Linked DNA regions of Homo sapiens: region 2 is linked to region 1. Evidence: fine-mapped expression QTL. A gene starts in region 1. The other region holds a variant in brackets. All regions are shown on one strand. Distances are from middle to middle. Region 1 holds the start of CRB2 (crumbs cell polarity complex component 2). Region 2 overlaps CRB2 (crumbs cell polarity complex component 2).

Evidence for each region. PIP is the estimated chance that this variant, and not a neighbour inherited with it, causes the effect. A credible set is the group of variants that fine-mapping cannot tell apart.
Region 2: its variant is the best candidate, but not a certain one, in a credible set for the expression of CRB2 in uterus (GTEx, PIP 0.74).

Annotation. Positions count from the first base shown.
Region 1 is chr9:123,353,627-123,357,864 of GRCh38, forward strand. CRB2 (crumbs cell polarity complex component 2) reads left to right here and starts at 2,571. Exons shown (of 13, transcript NM_173689.7): 1 at 2,571-2,728. The coding sequence starts at 2,635. RefSeq lists silencers at 392-501, 522-571 and enhancers at 534-1,033, 702-871.
Region 2 is chr9:123,374,469-123,378,706 of GRCh38, forward strand. It overlaps CRB2 (crumbs cell polarity complex component 2), which reads left to right. Exons shown (of 13, transcript NM_173689.7): 11 at 111-227; 12 at 749-875; 13 at 2,370-4,238. The coding sequence ends at 2,594. Among named protein-coding and RNA genes, the nearest start is that of CRB2, 20 kb to the left of the region's middle. RefSeq lists enhancers at 1,236-1,854, 1,855-2,472. The variant C/T (reference allele first, on the strand shown) is at 2,171.

The sequences.
Region 1 (4,238 bases):
GGTCTGCCTGATGCCAAAGCTGGGACTCCCAACCACTGAACCTTGCTGTCGCATGTGCCCATCAGCTTGAGAGTTGGTGGGAATCCCGGCCCAGGACAGCGTCCCCTCAGCCAGGGAGGTGGCAGCAAGTCATGCTCAGGCTAGTGGAGGGGCAGTTAGTAACCTGCAGTCGGAGGTTCACCAGTGGAAAGGCTGGAGTCGGGCAGACCCAACTCGAATCCTGCCAGGCACTGGTGCTGGGCTGCTCACCTCTCTGTGCCTCGGTTTCCTCATCCATAGAATGGGGCCAATGCTGACTTTGCAGTGCTGCTGGTGGGTGGGGGGGGGGTAAACTGAGGTTATGTCGATTCCCTTCCCAGGTGGGGAGGACAGGGGAAGTGGATGCACCTGGGGGACCATCTCAGAGGAGCTGGCCCACTCTTACTGCCTTCTCCAGATCCGGACCAGGGAGCGGTCAAGATGGTGTGCCCTTGTCTGACCTCCGTCCTGCCTGCTGTCCAGCGACTCCCTGGCTTCCTCCCCGTCACGTGGGACTCCTGTACCCGGTGCTGTCGGGGGAGCCCCCCTCCATACCCTCCAGACCTCACAAGACACTTCCAGGTCTGGCCACAAGGTGGAGTGTGGCGGCTGCAGGACAGTGCTGGGGGCCGGGCTGCAGAGGAGACTGGACCTGCGCCGGGTGACCTCCCCGCTCTGTGAAAGTGTGGGAGTTTGTGTCTGTGCATCCAGAGAACCAGAGGGTGGTGGTTGACTTGCCGTGCTCCCCCCAGCCCCCCATTGGGATTGCCTGGGTCTCTGGGGGATCACTGAGAAGCTGGATAAAGAGAGCTGGCACTGTCGCCTTGGCTCACTAACGCCACCATTTTACAGGTGAGGAGACTGAGGCCCAGAGAAGGAAGTCACGTGCTGAGGTCACCGGCTAATCAGTGGCTGAGCTGGGCTCGAACCCAGATCTCTTACGCTGTGAGGCCTCTGCTTTTCCTGTGGCATGGAGAGGGGCTTCTCCCACCTGGGGAGAGGGATCCTGTTGTATTGGAGAGGCAGGGGATTAAAGATGGACTGAGAGAGGTTAGTGTCCCAGAAACCAAGGGGCAATCCCTGCCCTGGAGAGAACAGGCCTCAAGGGCAGGGATGGGGCAGGGGCAGTGGATAAGGAGTCTACCCAGGCCTTTTTGGGTTCCCTCCTTTGGTCCCTGGGGACCCAGGGCTGTGGCACTTGCCCCGGGCTAGAGGGTCGGCCAGGGCCTGTGTGGTGCCCACTGCTCCCTCCCCTGCACTGCAGGGGACCCTTGCCCATCCCTCTAGCTCATCTGGACCTCCCTCAATGGCTCCTGCTGTCTTTCCAGGCTGTGTCCTCCCGTGTCAGGGACACATCCCAGAGCCCAGGGCCTGCGTGGGCTGTATCCACGGTTACTGAATAGGGACAAACAGGCATGTATTGGCAGGGGCCGGTGGCTCATTTCAGGAAAGTCCCTTCAGCAAGAGGATTCTCTCCCCACTGGGGCTGAGGGTGGTAGAAGAAAGGAATGTTGTTCTATGTTGTAGTGTCTCTGAGATGACCTGGCTTCCTGAACCAGGTCCCCCTGAAGAGCTCCTCCTGTCCACCCCAACAAGAGGCCAGCTGGAGAGCAAGCAAACATCGAGTGCAGCAGGAGACTATAAGGTTAGACAACAAGAAGGACTTCCTGGCAGGGGAGAGCAATGCTTGCTTGGTTAGAGCTGCCTTTCAGTAGAATGGGCTGCTTTGGATTGCAGTGAGGTCGCTGGAGTTGCAAACAGCAGAGCCAGAGATCAAGGTCAAGTGGAAGAAAGCTGGGAAAGGTTCAGTTTGGCTGGTGAAGGGTGGAGAGGGTAAAGGGAGGCAGGGACCACCGTGGTGCAGGGGTGAGGTGCCCTGCAGGGAGCTGATCCTGAGGCCGATGGTGGGAGGAGCTGTGTGTGGTCGGGTGGGACGGGGTGGGGACAGCAGGAGACACTGAGAAGGTGGCATGGCCAGGAGCTAGGGGCTGACCGAGTGTGGGGAGGGGGGAGTGGGGAGGGGGCGTTGGGCTGCCCGATGGGAGGTGCCTTGGCTCCGATGGGAGCACTGGGGAGCAGCAGGTGGGGGGACGAGCTGGGTGGGAGGGGCTGCAGCTTCCCAGCAGAGACAGGGTCTGGGAGGCGACTGGACTCGAAGGCCTGGGCTTGGGAGAGAGGCCCGGGCTGGAGAGGTGGGGAGGGGGATCCAGGAGAGGGGATAACTAAGGACTTGGGAGTAGCTGGCATCACCTGGTGAGACGAGAGTCCTGAACAGCCCCCTCTCCAAGGACAGAAATTTCTCCAAGGAGGCTGACCTGAGAGGTGGGAGGAGAGTGGGGCAGAGGGTCAGGAGGGAGAAACCAGTGGGTGCCAAGACCAGGTCAGCCCCACAGGCTAGGGGGCTTGAGGACTTGGGGCTGATGTCTAGGGACGTCCACGAGGTGGAGCAGCCCAGGAGGCCTGGGTGGGAGGAGGAGGCGGTGGCGGGGAGGGGAGGGAGGGGCTGGGCCTCTGTCCACAGCATTAGTGCTGGTTGGAGGGACGAGGGGGGTGCGGAGCCAGCCAGGCCGCCCTCCCGTTCTCACAGCAGCCGAGCAGAGCGCAGAGCGGGCTGCCATGGCGCTGGCCAGGCCTGGGACCCCGGACCCCCAGGCCCTGGCCTCTGTCCTGCTACTGCTGCTCTGGGCCCCTGCCCTTTCCCTCCTGGCTGGTGAGTTGGGGCCCATGTCTGGAGGGGCCTGGGAGAGGGTCTGTCCCCCAAGACAGATACCCCAAGCCTTGGCTGCTGGGGTGGTGGGTGGGCTGGTCCGCGTGGGTGCAGGCCTGAGCTGTGGGGTGCACAGGAGTGCGCGGCTGTGGCCCCCAGACTCTGTGGGGCTCCACGGAGGTGAGTGTGTTCTGAGGCTCGGGGCTGTTTCATGTTGAGGGGGGTTGTAAGTTTCGGGGTTGGGGGATCGGGGGCTGGGCATGATTTGGGGGAGCTGATGCGGGTGAGGGATGGGGTGCGTGTTTTGGGAGGTGCTGTGTTGCATCCTGTAAAGGGCTGGGGGACTTCTGGGTTTCTAGGGGCTGAGTTTGGGGAGTTGCAGGTGGCATAAGCCTCACCCCAGAGCTTGTTCTGTGTCGCATGCTGGGTTGTGGGGCACAGGTTGTGGGTGTGTTAGAGTTGGGAGGTGGATGAGCTGTCTGGGGTGAGCCGTGAGTTGTGTCCGAGGAGTTGGGTGTGGTGAGCTGTGTCCTAGCACACGCTGTGGGGTGTAGGTTGTCCAGGGTTGAACTAGGTCTTTGCTCTCAACATGAGGGGTGTGGGATGTGCACAGCCGACCCCAACTCGGGACTGAGTGGAGAAGCGTGAGGGAGACTCAGGGAGCTGGGTGCCTGCCCGCACCCCTCCATTTGTGCGGTAGCCCTGCCTGTGCTGAGGGCTGCTGGGGATGCTCTGGGTCCCTGTGGGGTGGCTGGGGATTTGGGAACATGTGTGTGTCCCCTGCTGCCCCCTCCCCAGCATTCCAAGGCCAATCTGAAAGGGCTCCCTGAAGCCAGACCACATTTGCCAAGCCCTTTTTGCTTTTGTCCAAGCTCTCGGAGCCTGGAATTCCTCCTGGGGGGTCCAAGGGAACGCTTGGTGTTAGTTACTATAGTTACAGGGGCCGGGCCTGGGAAGTCCCCTGCCCCCACCACCACAGGCTGGGGAGGGAGCCAAGGAGGGCCTGGGCTCTCCTGAGGCTGGGGGAGCCCTCCCTGCCCCAGAGCTCCACAGGCTGTAGGGTGTGGGGGCCAAGTGTCTCCCAGTCCCACCTGGGGACCCTCATGTTTCCCGCACTCACAAAGCTTTCATTTCCTATCCTCTCTATGGGGCCCTAGGGAGGATGAGGACCCCATTTTGCAGTGAAGGAAACCAAGGCTCAGAGAGGGACGGGGACTTATGAGCTGGGCTCTGCTGGCAGGCGACTTGGGCTCCATAGAGGGGTGGGGCATGGTGGCGGGGGGCGGGGTGGCTGCTCCTCTCTGTTCTCTGCATACAAAGCACGTGAGATCCCGGTCTGTGGATCGGTGCTCTGTCCCCTGCCCTGTGATGCTCACACACCCACACTCCGCACACCTGTGTGGCATGCCCAAGGGCACACAGCACCACAGGGACAGGTGCTACAGACACATGTGGATCTACCAGCACATGCACCTACCTACACACATGGCATGTGCCTGCACACCAATGTGCA
Region 2 (4,238 bases), 21 kb after region 1:
CCCTGAGTTCCATACATGAGAACACAAGCTCAGGTGGCCCACGGTCACAGCGCTGGGGAGGGCAGGTCCCAGGTGTCCTGCACCCACTCCAGCCTCTGCTCTCTCCCCAGGTTGCCTGTCCCATCCAAGGAGTGCAGCCTGAATGTCACCTGCCTCGATGGCAGCCCATGTGAGGGTGGCTCTCCCGCTGCCAACTGCAGCTGCCTGGAGGGTCTTGCTGGCCAGAGGTGGGTCTGGGGGCCTGGGAACTGTGAGGAGGTCCAATGAATGTGGAGGGCTGTTCCTCCAGCCAGGGTGGGGCGGGGGTCCTCGCCCACCTTCTCACCCCTCCCTGGTATCACAGTCACCATTGTCACTTGAGTTTCCTTCCATGACTCGCAAGACCATCCTCTGTGATACAGACTGCTGCTGGGCAGTGGTTGCCTGGTGGCAGTTCTGGAAACCCAGCCTCAGCCCGCCTGTGGGAGACCATAAAAGTGCAGATTCTGGGCCCTGCAGACAGTGGCGTCAGCGTCTGGGGCACCTGCCTTCACACAGGCTCCCGTCACCCTAATGGGATGAGAGTCCTTCTCAGTGACGGCTGCTCAGGTGGTCACCTGGCAGGGCCCAGCTGGGCAGGAGCAGCGCATGGGGACAGTGGATGGATAAGCTCTGATGCTTGCTGAAGTGGGGATGGGCAGCAGAGCAGCTGGGAGCACAAGAGGCAGCCATGGGGGAAGCCGCTTTCTCAGCCCCCCTCCCTCTCCAGGTGTCAGGTCCCCACTCTCCCCTGTGAAGCCAACCCCTGCTTGAATGGGGGCACCTGCCGGGCAGCTGGAGGGGTGTCTGAATGTATCTGCAATGCCAGATTCTCCGGCCAGTTCTGTGAAGTGGCGGTGAGTGTTGTCAGGGGTGAGGGGCCGTGGACGTGGCCTGCTGGGCCCTTGGCGAGATGCTGCTGGGGAGAGAGCGCAGCACCATGGGGCTGTTCCTGGGCCACTCTGTCATGGGGTGGGGCAGTGAGAGGAGCCTCAGGTCCCTTCCACACCCCCCACACAAGAGGTATTTCCACTGCAGGGAGAGCTTTGGGGGCTGTCACCGTCTATTGACAAGAGCACAAAGCTCCTAGCTGGGTCAGCGGCTTCCTCAGAGTGCCCAGGGCAGTGGCAGTGAGGACAGATGGTCTCTGCCAATCCAACCAGGACTCAGGGCCATGTTGGTGTTCTGGGATTTAGGTTGGTGAATCCAGGAGACTCATCTCCAGGGGTTTCTGAGCCAGTGTCCTGAGTAGGAAGACACGGAGGGGCAGGGGGCCTGGGAGTCCGCACTGGAGCAGGCTCGGCCCGCTGTGCAGGCTGGCCCCAACCCCGGGTGGCTCAGCCCAGGAGGAGCCTGGACAGACGAAGGCAGCAGGCGCTGGAGCTGTGAACCTCCCCGCCACACCCCTTCCTGGGGCGGGGTGGGGGGAGTGGGTGCTGGCGAGGAGAGGCTTGGAAGGGAAGTCTGGGGAGCAGCCTTGATCTCTACAGGCTTCTGGCAGCCTGGGTCATAAACCACAAATCCCCTCCGCTTACGGGGAATGTTTCCTTTCAAGTTGAACTTTTACAGCCTCTGGCTTCCCTACCCAGCCACCTCCCCAGGGCAGGGGGAGGAAATGGCTTTACAGCTCCTCCCTCAAAATGTCCAACGGTGGAGGCTGGCAGGACCCTCTCAGGACCAGAGGAACTTTCCTGTCAAGTTTTAGGACCCAGGTCACAGTGGGCTGGGAAGCCTGGAGGTACAGAGGGAGGCTGGTGAGTCCCAGAGCCCATGCCTCTGGAATCCTCGCATCCTGGGACTACAGAGTCCCAGGCATGTAGAGGCTTTGATGGGGAATCCTGGGAGCCTGTGACTGGAGACACCAGGGAGGTTTGCTGGGCTCCCCGAAGCCTGGGCCGAGGCTCGCAGGGACAAGCTGTCATAACAGCCCCTCGGCCCCCCTGCCACCCTGCCCCCGCAGGTGGGCCCCAGTGGATTCTGACCTTGCTATTGTGGCAGGGGGCCGCTCAGCCTGCCCCTGCTCCTGCTCTGCCTCATGAGACCCTCGTAGGCTTCTGTGAAACCCATGCACCCTGCTTAGCTCCTGCCGGGTGTTCAATAAACGCCCATCTCTGTCCTTCTAGCCAGAACTCCTTTGTTGTATAGGCCTCCC[C/T]GAGCAGTGGCTGTGACAGGTGGTTTCCTGGCACTTGCCTGCATACCCCTGGGGCTGGGTCTTCACTGCTCCCAGGGCAGCCTGCTCCCAGCTCTGATTTTCTCTGAGTAGGTCCTTGTGCTGCGCTCTCTGCTCTCTGAGGGCCCCGGCGTCCTCCCCTTCTCTGCGGTCTTAGGCCTCGGTGTCGTGTCTCTTGCAGAAGGGCCTGCCCCTGCCGCTGCCATTCCCACTGCTGGAGGTGGCCGTACCTGCAGCCTGTGCCTGCCTCCTCCTCCTCCTCCTGGGCCTCCTTTCAGGGATCCTGGCAGCCCGAAAGCGCCGCCAGTCTGAGGGCACCTACAGCCCAAGCCAGCAGGAGGTGGCTGGGGCCCGGCTGGAGATGGACAGTGTCCTCAAGGTGCCACCGGAGGAGAGACTCATCTAGGCCAGCCTGGCTGCTGGCACCAGCACCTGGAGGTCCTGAATGGTTTCTACCTGGAGACCCAAGGAAGCTGCTTCCAGGGCTCGGGACATTGCTACGGAAGTGTCCCCTTGGCTGGCAGCCTCTGCCTCTGCCTCTGCCCCATCCTGGATGGAGGACGAGGGGAGCAACTCAGGGAAACAGAGGCCTAGAGAGGCTGCGGACTTCTCCATCCCACCCTCGGGGTTCCGCCTTGGCAGGTGTACGGCTGTGCGTGGGAGGGCACACGTGGGTTCACAGTGTGTTCAGGAGTGTGTGTATCTGGAGGAGTGTGTGTGTGAGTGTGTACCTGGGCCTGTGTTAGTCTGCAGATGCTAGTGTGAGTGTGTCCTGACATGGCTCCAGGGCGTGTCTGCCGTGTTTACTGTGTGTCTATGACTGTGATGGGTGTAGCTGATCCCAGGAGGTGGCGGCTGCGCCATGGGGTCAACCATTACAGTCCTAGGGCAGGGGCGGCCCAAGGCTGCATGTTCTCCAGGAGGCCAGGCCGGGGTTGCCCAGGCACCTCCTTCCCCGCCTCTGGGGGCTGCTCCTGCTGTGGAGGCAGCTGGGAAGTCAGGGAAGGCCACTAGCAGAGGCTGAGTGGGCTTCTGGCTCCTAGAACAAATGTCCCTTCAGGCAGGTCTGTCTGCCAGAAGCCAGAGCCAGTCATGCGAGGGAACCACAGACCCACCCGCCCCCTCAGCCGGAGCAGCCCGAGGGAGCAGAGGAGGGGCTGCCTGGAGCTTCCCACCCTGCTGTGGTCATTTGTCAAAGGGGGAAGGCACCCACTGCCTACCTCACAGGGCTGTTGTGAGGATCAGAGAGGACGACAGTGGGGAAAGAATCTGGAAGTCTTCAACTGCCGTCTGATGGGAAGGACCGTCTGGGTGTCCTTCTGGGATGAGGATGACAGAGCAACCCTTCTCCTGCCCTGAACCCCCCCAGCTCACCTGACCACCTCTGGTTCTCCAGCTCCGGTCCTTCCTAGCAGCCTGGTGAGCTCACTCCTTCCCCTGATGACTGGCTGCCTCTACACAGACTCGGCGAGAGGACTTGAAGGAAGCCCTCTGGGTTGTCTGCTGAGTACAGGGGCTCAGTGAACACTGGCGCTGCCTCTGAGTCGGGGCTGGGCCTGCAGAGGCCGACTCAGAGGAGACTCTGCTGCTTGCTCCCAGCCCCTTCCCCGGCGATGCCCATCACACTGTGACCTCCCATCCCTGAAGGGCACCTGCCTGAGGGCCTGGCCTCCTTCCAGCTTCATGGACCTGGAGATGTGCCCTTTCATCCTTCCTGCTTCCCAGGCCAGTAGATCCGTTTACACTTTTGGGTCGACAGTCAGCTTTTCCTTTTGGTTTTGGCGGGTCCCAGAGGCATGGGTGTCCAGTCCAATGTGGGGAGCCACGTGACAACGTGGGGGACTGGGACATGGGACTGGGAAGTCAGCAGACGCTGGGATAGAGAGGGCCCTGAACACCAGGCTCAGGGGCTTGCTTGGTCCTTATCCTGTAGGAGGTGGGACCACCTTTCCCTGAACTTTCTCTACAACCCTTGGGAGCGTGGGGAGGAGGCGGCTGGTTCCAGGGTCAGTTTACTAAGTTAGAGATTTGGAAAACCTGTGTCAGCTGT